Regions from separate parts of the Homo sapiens genome. Here region 1 is linked to region 2. The links come from fine-mapping of genetic effects on gene expression. A gene starts in region 2. The other region holds a variant in brackets. All regions are shown on one strand. Distances are between the middles of the regions. Region 1 overlaps STMND1 (stathmin domain containing 1). Region 2 holds the start of STMND1 (stathmin domain containing 1).

The links.
Region 1: its variant is fine-mapped to the expression of STMND1 in nasal epithelium (TOPMed, PIP 0.98).

The regions. Positions count from the first base shown.
Region 1 is chr6:17,122,851-17,128,232 of GRCh38, forward strand. The region is part of intron 3 of STMND1 (stathmin domain containing 1); the gene reads left to right. Among named protein-coding and RNA genes, the nearest start is that of STMND1, 23 kb to the left of the region's middle. The variant A/G (reference allele first, on the strand shown) is at 2,889.
Region 2 is chr6:17,099,655-17,105,036 of GRCh38, forward strand. It overlaps STMND1 (stathmin domain containing 1), which reads left to right and starts at 2,396. Exons shown (of 5, transcript NM_001190766.2): 1 at 2,396-2,684. The coding sequence starts at 2,604. The region is part of intron 1 of LOC101928463 (a long non-coding RNA gene); the gene reads right to left.

The sequences.
Region 1 (5,382 bases), 23 kb after region 2:
TATTTGAAAGTGCTAGAAGAAGGGATGGGTTTTTAATATCAAAGGGGAGAGGAAAGATTTTTTTCTAGCTGTAGGTGAGTCTGTAGGGGTCAGGAAAAAAGAAGGCATGTCAAAAGAAAAAGGAAAGCAAGTCTGAGAGGAGGCAGATAGATTGTGGAAACATTCAGTAGCTAAGCAATGTCTTCTTAAGGGAAATGCTATAGACACTTCGATGTCTACATACATACACCAGTAGGAATCACATTAAAACATTCTCCGTGATTCAATTGCCAGAGATGAATGAGTTCTGACTTAGACTTTGCAATGGAGCCTGCAAGGTTAATTAATATAAACTACCTTGTGAAAGAGATGCACCTTTAAAAAAATAATAACTGTGGGCTGGACTTTTAATAACATCATTAAGTGAACCAAAGATGAAGACTATTTTTCATACTATGTAGGCATATAGAATGGTTGTTGGGAACGTTCTCAAAAGGATTTAAATGTGACAGCCTTCAGGAATAGCACAATTTTGTTTTTTTGGCTTTGGTATTAGGCCAAGATATCCCAACATAAGCCAGGCTTGCAACAGACCAGGCAGCAACACACAGCTCTCTTGTTTCATCGCCTAATCCAGTGGTCCTTAACCCGCCGGTACATTGGAGTCACCTGGGGATATTTCAAACATCCCAGTGCCTAGGTACCACTTCCGACCACACAGCCTGGGCGTGTGGCCCTGCTTTCACACTTCTGAAAGCTCCCAGGTGATTCCCATGGGCAGCCCGGTTGAGAACTACTGCCGTGAAGTTTCACCAAAACTCTACACAACGCTCTCAAATCCATTACCAAAGCTGGGAAGGGTTAAAGCTTTTGAAATCATTCTTGATTCCCTATTCATTGTGAAAGAGAATTCTGAAATATTCCTGAAAATATACCATTTCAGGAATAGGAACTAAGATTATACTCAGGAAGCCTAAGGAAATAAAAGAGATGCAGTTTCTGTGTCACGGATAAAACTTCTTTCAATTCAGAGGTAGCTGAGAACATATGTGTGTCAGACACCAGGTGTCTTGCATATTTTGGGAAGAGTTATGAGGCCAATGTAAAAAGATGAGAATGAATATTGAAGGACTGAGAGGGGAACCATATTAAGAATGGAAATATTATTAGATAATATTAATCATTAATAATATTAATACTTTGAATATCTAATGTTTAATAAGTTTTTTCAAACCCAGACTGATCAAACTGGCTAAAAACAAAACAAGAAGTCAAGGGAAACAAAAAAGGGATAGTCAAAACAAAGATATTATTATGTCAGCAGTTACTACAATGTGGTAAATCTTAACAGACATGTAAATATTATTTCTTCACTGCTCTAGGGAATAACATTCTTTTAAATAAAATATTATGGGAAAAATAGAATAAATGTGAAAATACTTTGAGTCTCATGCTCTACCAGCAGAACTAGCCAAGCAGCCAAAGAGAATAGTTTAAAAATAAGACTTCTTATGTGGGCCAATAGTATATTTACATACAAGGGCATTTCAGACTTAGATCTGGCTGCTTCTTAGCCAGGTCATTATCTTTCATTGAGTTATTTAGAGTGAAATTGAATAAAGGATGTTGAAAATTGAGGGTTCACCTTCATGAAGGTCCCTCATGAAGGTCCCTCTTCCGAATCGGGGGCATCCCCCATAAGCCAGTATCTCCCTAGAGGTAAGGGGAGGATCTGTGTCCACCACAGAGGCCCCTTTGTCTTTTTTCTTAATTTTCATCATAATCTTGCTGGTGAATACCACAGTAATTCCATAGTACTCTCTGGATAACCAGCTTTCGAGATGTTTATGCGAGAATATTTTATGTTTACTTAAGAGTTAAAATCAGGCTGGGCAAGATGGCTTATGCCTGTAATCCCAGCACTTTGGGAGACCAAGACAGGCAGATGGCTTGAGCCCAGGAGTTTGAGATCACCCTGGGCAACATGGTAAAACCCCATCTCTACCAAAAAAAAAAAAAATTAGCTGGGCATGGTGGTGTGCACCTGTAGTTACAGCTACTTAGGAGGCTGAGGTTGGAGGATCACTTGAGCCTGGAAGTTCGAGGCTGCAATAAGCCTTGATTATACCACTGCACTCCAGCCTGGGTGAAACAGCGAGACCCTGTCAAACAAAAAACCCAATTAAAAAAAAAAAAAGTTAAATGTGCTAGGCATGGTGGCTCACATTTGTAATCCTAGGGCTTTACGAGGCTCAGCTGGGAGCGTCCCTTGAGGCCAGGTGTTCAAGACCAGCCTGGGCAACATGGTAAGATGCCATTTCTACAAAAAAAAAAAAAAAAAATTAAGAGTTAAAGTGATATGTAAGAAATATAAGATTAAGAAGGTAAGTATCAGATTGTTGAGGGAATCTTTCAGTGTATTTTTAAACATTCTAATTAGACTTAACTGACTATATTGTAAACAAACATTGGTTTTACGTACACATGTCGATATGTATATGGATAGGTATAGACCTCTTTAGAGAGATGTGATTGGCTCTCATTTATCCACATAGGTATTATTGAGTTCGTCTTTTATCCCAAATTCATTTCTCCCCGCCACTTAGCACATCCTGGGTCTCCCTACCTGAGGCTCTGTGAATTCACTATTGACCTCTGTGTCTGGTCAAAGTTTATTCCCTTCTCTGTGTGACTTCTATACTTGGGAACCTGAAGTGTACTTGGAGAGTTTGTTCACATTGCATAAGAGTCTCTACCATTATTTGTTGAACCTCCTGGAGAATTTTTTAAGGAGGAGGAAGTTGACTGAGTTAGGACTCAATAACGCCAGCTAATGATCGGAGTGACCTTCCCCAGGAGGTCTAACAGTGATAAAACAAGAATGAAGGGCTGTTTTGCAGGATTGGCCT[A/G]TTCTATCCACAAGACTCCTTTAAGGAAACAAAATGAAGACAGGTTCATCCGTAGGTCAATAGTTAATTAAGAAAGCTCTGAGGAATACACAGTGTATGTAAGAAGTAAAATATACAAGTTAGTAGCTAGAAACAGGACTCTAATCTAATTGCAGCATTTTGAACTTGGCAGTCCTCTGAAAGTATTCTTTAAGAAAATGATTGAACTGGTAACTTCTGTAGGTTGATTTTGTTGTTGTCAATGTGTTGTTGTTTCCACTGGTAACACCTCTCTAAGCATAAGGTGATCATTGTTTTATATATATATATATATATATATATATATATATATATTTTTTTTTTTTTTTTTTTTTTTTTTTTAAAGAGACAGGGTCTGACTACATTGCCCAGGCTGGTCTTGAATTTCTGAACTCAAGTGATCCACCTGCCTTGGCCTCCCAAAGTGCTGGGATTACAGCGTGAGCCACTGCGCCCAGCTCATTGTTAACGTTTTTAAGTTCCAACATTTGATAAATTCTGACTTCATAAAATTCAGTTGTAAAGAATACAGATATCTTTCTACAGGTTTTTTATTTTTTTACTTAAAATATGGAACTCAAGAAAGAACATGGCTTGCACAGGTAGGATTAACTTCCTCTGTGGGGAGGATCATTTTAAGATTAAGCCACGGGAAGAGGTGACCAAAACAGAAAAATCCAAGCTCTCTCAGAACTACTGATCTCAGAATTTTAGTCAAGGTTCAGGCTCCTATGTATAGCCTAATCTGGCATTTCTTTAGTGGATCTTGGATTACTACTTAATTTTCTTTTAGCCTTCTACGCATGAACATCCCTAAAAAATCATTTTCTTGCTAATTTCACAGTATCTCTAGTTGAGCCACCGTAGCAAGTATTTCCCTCTTTTCAGCGGGTGGTCTTTGCCAGCAGGAAACTTAGGAGCCAATTGTCATAAAAATAATACAAAATGATGATGGGAGAGGGAACTTCCTTTGACAAACATTCCACGGTTTTCAAGCAGTGAAAAACTTTGCACCCCATAAACCGTCCAATGGTTCTAAAGGAGCCAAAATGTCAATAAATGTTTTTTCTTTAGGAGACTTCCTGAGAATCATAGATTTTAAAGCTGAAAGGAAGCTTCACAGGCCTCTTGCCCCTTGCTGCTTCACAGTTGAGAAAATTGAGTCCAAAGAGAAGAGCTGCCTGGGTCTCCACTATGTGCTGGGCATTCCTGCCGCCCCAGAGTTGAAGCTCATGCCTGCTGCCTGATGATCCCCCCGGCTGTAGGCTCTCCTTCCTCCCCTCTGTGCTTTCGCCCCTTTCCGCTTTGTCCTGGTTATGAGTTTGTGTTCTGCCTTTGGAAGAAGTCACTGCTTTGACTGAATGAAAAGTAGCTATCATTTGCAGAGTGGCTACTTTATCCTTTTCTTTCTTTTTTAAAACCAATCCCAAAATATATGTTATTAAACTTATTTTACAAATGAGGAAACCATAGCTTGCAGAGTTTAAGGAATCATAGAGAGTCAATGCACACGCTGGGCGTGGAGGCTCACGCCTGTAATCCCAGCACTTTGGGAGGCTGAGGCAGGTGGAACACCTGAGGTCAGGAGTTCAAGACCAGCCTGGCCAACATGGTGAAACCCCGTCTCTACTAAAAATACAAAAATTAGCTGGGCGTGGTGGCACACACCTGTAATCCCAGCTACTTGGGAGGCTGAGGCAGGTGAATCGCTTGAACCCGGGAGGCGGAGGTTGCAGTGAGCCAAGATCGTGTCAATGCACTCCAGCCTGGGTGACAGGGCAAGACTAGGTCTCAACAAAAAACAAAAACAAAAAAACCCGTCATTCCATAGCCCAGCCAGGATTCAAACCCAGGGCTGACTAAGTCTCCGTCTGGTGCCTTGTTTTACTCTGCTAAACTGCCTCTCTTTGATTTATTTTCTTGGTACCTATAGCATTATAGTCTGGAGAAACAGTCTTTTAGAAATTACAATGAATATTAATAGCTCCTTTGTCTTTAAAAAAAGTCTTTAGAGAAATTATCTGGAACAATATTCAGTTCATTTTGTAATGCAGCCTTGGAGTTAACTACCCCCACCCAGTTGTAATAAATCTATATTTATATAGAAAGATGTCCATATTAAGTTAATTGAAGAAAGTTAATTGCAGAGCAGTGTATATAGTATAACTCCATTTAGGTTTTGTTTAACATTACAGATATCCTTAACATATATATGTGCAGAGTAGATATCTGGGAAGACACACACTGAACTCTTTACAAAGGTTCATGCTAAGGACTGGGATTGGGGGCCATGTGGTTAAATAGAGGATAAGGAGATGATTTATGTATCAGTTATATTTTTTATAATCAATCTATATTATCTTAAAACTAATTTTTAAAACAAAACACCTTAAAACTTTCTTCATAAATACTTTATGACAATTTTACTTATTTTGGAACTAGAAATTATAATTAGAAAGTCATCATTACTGCTTTG
Region 2 (5,382 bases):
TTAAACAAACATGCATGTTAACATATCACCCCATGTTCACTTTGGGGTGATTTAACATTTGAATGTATTACAAGTAAGTCCTATATATCAAAAGGTCTTTTGAGGACATGAAGCATGCAAGTGCATAACCTCTGTCAACTGGCCAGAAACAGTCCATGGTCGCTGGTCTTCTTATCAGGAGAAAGTTACTGAAATTGATCTCTTGTCCAATCAAAGCTGTAGTTAGGGCTGGTGTCGCAGGAGGTCAGTTAGAGCCTGTGAGCTGGATAAGCTGTAATTGTTTCAATATTGCTTATTTCTGGCCAGTGCTTGTTTAGCTGCTAAAGAGAAAGAAAAACTTCATAGCAAGATTAGAACATAGTTTCTTCTTTAAATGTAGAGGTGTATGACTTAACCATTGCCTTAGGTCCTATTTATAATTTGGTATGTTACTGCCACGAAAGTTCTGTCAATCTTCTTTTTTTTTTTTTCTTTTTGAGATGGAGTCTCGCTCTGTCACCCAGGCTGGAGTGCAATGGTGCCATCTCGGTTCACTGCACTCTCCACCTTCCGGGTTCAAGCAATTCTCCCTGCCTCAGCCTCCCAAGTATCTGGGATTACAGACACCCGCCACCACACCCGCTAATTTTTGTAATTTTAGTAGAGACGGTGATTCGCCAGGTTGGCCAGGTTGGTCTTGAACTCCTGACCTAAGGTGATCCACCTGCCTTGGCCTCCCGAAGGGCTGGGATTACAGGCGTGAGCCACCGCCTGTTCTGCCAATCTTCTGGTCTCTATTTTAACATTAATGCTGATCAGTTGTTGTGTCTAAACCAAGGCGGTATAAAAAAAAAAAAAAGGCATGTCTCACCTCTCATTCCGTCATAACCAGGAACTTGGTTTTTAAGTTGTTCTTGGGTCCCCTTGGCTCAGAAGGGGTCTGTTCAGTCTATGGTGGGCTTAGGATTTTATTTTAGTTTACACACTGTAGTCCTAGGATGCTGCAAACAACACCTGCACAACACACTTGGGTACCACCTACTCGTTCTCAGCAAATCTCTGTTCACAGAGAGCCTTAAAAGAAAAAAAAAAAGTTGTGTGCAGTATCTTACCCTTACAGTTATACAAACATCCATTCAACTTGCTCAAGAACATTTTATTGGTGTCCTTTGTGTTGGAATATTCTAATCGAGAATTTCCCCCAGTTTCCAGTTGGGGCATTACATGTGTCTTATGACACCCATGAGTTAATACTATCAGAGCTGTTCCCCCAACACCATTTTAGCTTTGTTTCAACTCTTCATTCAATAAATCTTCAATGTTTCTTGCTCCATAATTATAATACTTTGAGTTGAGTTTCATTTCCTCATCTTTCCTCTTCCTCAATTTTAGTAGAAGGAAAATTGACAGCAATATCCAATAACAGTGAAATGAGTTTAAATGCTGTAAGTAATCAGCTTCCTATCACAGAGCTGAGCATTAGTTTCCTTGGAAGGACCCAGGATTTTTACACCTCTAAGAATCCTCAGTTGTACTTTCCTGGTATTGTGGAGACAGAGAGAAACTGAGTCAGGCCACCTAGTTCCTCATCCTACCTTCATTAACTAGCTTCCCGTTGACCTTGGGAAAGTCACTCAACTTCTGCAAAACTAAAAAAAAAGAGTTGATAGGAGACCTCTAAGATTCCTTTTAGTTCGTTTTAATTCTTTAAAAAAAAATAAAAATTAAGATTAAAAGAAAATATCCGGGAAAGACAAACTTGATCCTCATTGGAGCAGTCTTCCTGGTCTGCCTTTTTGGACGGATAACACCTTGATTTAATTCTCTGCTAGAAATATGCATAGCCATGCTCTTTCCATACAGCCTAACAGCTCGTAAAATGCACCTGCCATTAAAATGATTTGCGTGACCCATTTGGCGGCTGCTGAGCTGTTTATGGTCCTGACTATCTGCTTTTCTTCATCGTGTTGGTTTCTGTTCGTGCGACCGTCTTTCTGAGGTCGCTTTTGTGCCACTGCCTTCTGGTGCTGTCGGGGCCGCCTCCACACCGTCCTCCGGCCCTCAACAGCCGTCTCTGCGACTGGACACCTGCCTCGCATGCCACACGATCACCTTCACTACAGACAGTGTCTAAAAACAAGGATGTGGTCCAGGCACCAGGGGTAGGGGCGTGTCACACACACCGTGTCTTACAAAGAGGAAAAATAAGAGGTTCCCGCAAGATGCTTGCGACTCTGGTACTTTTCAAAGTAACGCAGCCAGGCAGCGGGCTTTCCCCCGGCCCCTCGCTCTGGATAGGGCTGCCATTTGCATCCTAGCTGTGATTTAGACACCTCCAACCTTCTAGTTTTCAGTTACAAGAGTCCCATCTCCGCCCAGGTCCCAGGTCTGCATGACGTAATTTATTGTGGCAACCATTCCTGGCGACTGCCCAGAAACTCAGTGCGTCCTGCCCGGGGTTTAAGCGCGGGAAGTGGGAGAGGCGGGTGGCGCCCGAGCGCAGTAGCAGGGGCGTAGGGCGCAGGGCGCAGGAGCGCGGGACCACCGGCGCCGGAGCGCGGCAGGGAGCGCTCGCGGGGGCGCACAGCAGCCAAGCCCGCGGAGGAGGAGCGCGCGCGCGCAGCATGGGCTGTGGACCTTCCCAACCTGCTGAAGACCGGAGACGTGTACGCGCGCCCAAGAAGGGCTGGAAAGAGGAATTCAAGGTAATAAACAAACAAACAAACAAACAAACAAACAGACAGAAAGCCTTTTGCCTGGGAGGTCTCGCGATTCCCACGCTTGGGGGCGACAAGAGTTGGCTGGAGCAGGGTCGGTCGAGGCTAGTTAACAGGTGGGAGCAACTTTATTCTGCCGGTGTTTAACTGCTGTCTTAACCGGGACTAGACGGATGCATAAATATCAAAATATATCTATCTATATCGATAGAGAGTATAGATACAGATATATGGCTATAAGATCAATTTTGAGAGCCTTTGGTGTTTAAAGAGATTACGAAGGTGGTCACACCCCAGGGCACAGGCAAGGAATAACCGGATGAGCAGCATGTTCTGCACAGAGCTAGTGTTGACCGTGATTCTCGAGGGAAGGTTAGAGTCCGTAGGAACTGCCATATATTATTGGCTTCTGAAAAATAGGCCCTTTGGTCGTTTCTTAAAGCTGGGAGAGATCTCAGAACCTATCTGGTTGCGTCCTCTCGATTCATAGATGAGAATCATGAGGCCCAGAGAGATAGGCGACTTGTCCGAGGCTGCACAGCTAATTTGGGGGCACAGCGAAGGTAGAATTTAGTTTTCAAGAGTTTCGTTCCAATACTCTTTTCCCTAATTCCTCAAAGTTGCATGCACTGTAATTCTTCTAGAGACATTATGGGGAATTTTTTCCAGAGCGAGACCTAGAGGGATGAGTTGGCTGAGCAGAAATGAGGTCCATGATTTCTTTGCATCCTTACCACCCTCCAGATTCCACAGACAGCGCTAGCAACCCTCAAGGGTCCACCTAAGAGGGGTTACACCGAAAGATAAGGCTAACATATAATTTATCATCAAAATTATGCTTTTAAGAGTGAAAGGAAACCCTATTAATACATTTTCCCAAAGACCCTGGCTGAAGCACAGCAAACTGGGACTTATGGCCACCTTTCCGAAGGGTCATTTTTGGAGCTACTGTTCAAAGAGCACACACTTGGTCTCAGCAGGCACTGTGCAAGACACTATTAAGTGCCAGCTGCAGCACCTACTTCATGTGGGGCACATCTCTTGGGCTCTTGGAGTACATTTTGAAACAAGCAAACCAGAATCTAGTGAAGGCTGACTCCACATTTAGTACCTGGTGCCCTGGGGGAAGCCTGTGCCCAAATGGCCACCCATCTTAACACTATTTTCTGCTTTCCATCCTGAAACTGCCACTGTCTCTGTATAGGGACCCATTACCTTTTTTTTTTTTTTTTTTTTTTTGAGACGGAGTCTTGCTCTGTCACCCAGGCTGGAGTGCAATGGCACGATCTCAGCTCACTGCAACCTCCATCCCCCGGGTTCAAGCAATTCTCCTGCCTCAGCCTCCTGAGTAGCTGGGATGACAGGCGTGCGCCACCACGCCCAGCTAATTTTTGTATTTTTATTAGAGACAGAGTTTCTTCATGTTGGTCAGGCTGGTCTCGAACTCCTGACCTCGTGATCCACCCGCCCCAGCCTCCCAAAGTGCTGGGATTACAGGTGTAACTCACCGCACCCTGCTAGGACCCATTACCTTTTATGGGGTATTTCTGCCTCTCCTGACAGGATCCTAACAAGTTTCTCCTCCACACTGCCACCTATCTTGCCAAGGGAAAAATTTCTCTTCGTGTGCAAAACCCTTTAGTTTATAATCTATCCTGTCCCTCTAATGTCATCCTCTTCTCTTGTCTTCTGCCAGTGCCTGTCACTCATGGGCTCTTGGATCTGCTAAACCAAATGACTCTCAGGGCTCAGTTCTTCCAGGCATCTCACACCTCCATGCCTTTACCTGTGCCATTCCCTCTTCCTGAGATGCCCTCCCTGGGACCCTCTCCTATTGGCCTGGTGAACTCATGATCACTTTGGACTAATACGTAGAAATACTTTTTTCTCCCATTTTTCAAAAATACATTAATGTCACTTAAAAGTGCTAATCCATTGTTCTTGTCGCCCTTTTCATACAAAAATCTTTCTTTTATTTTTTATTTATTTTGCTGGCCTGATTACATATAAGACTTCAACAGAAAGAAATGGGTTTCTTTTCTCGCCGTTATCATTTGTTCCATTTCATGGTTACTGCTAAAACTAATTTCGTTGCACAGCATAGGAGGGGATGCTAAAAACCAATCCTCTCCAAGCGTCAAATACAAGATGTCTTCTGGGCCAAGCCATTCCAAGGCCCAGGAGGGTTCCTGGGTTTCTACCTACATTTCTTGGGTAAGATAATTATCACTTCTCGCTTGGATTTTTGTGCAAGTCTCCTAATTGCTCTCCCTGGATCCTTTTTCTACTTCCTGCTACACCTGACCTCCTCCTCTAATCATCCACATGACCTCCAGAAGGATCTTTCTCAAATAAAATCTGATTATCTCAGTCCTCTTTTGAAAAGAAGTCACCAACCCATTAGGTAGGACACATAAACCCATGGTCAAGAGTATGACAAGCTAGGTTTGATTTCTAGATTTATTATTTATTTGTTGTGTGACCTTTTTCAAGTTATTTAACCTCCCTGTGCCCCAGTTTTCTTATTTGTAAAATGAGGGCAGTAATAATACACATAGTGGGGCCTCTCTATCTGTGGGTTCCACATTCAGGGATACAAGAAGCATGGCTGGAAAATATTCTTTTTAAAAAAAAACTGTACTGAACATGTATAGACTTTTTTTTGTTATTGTGCCTTAAACATACA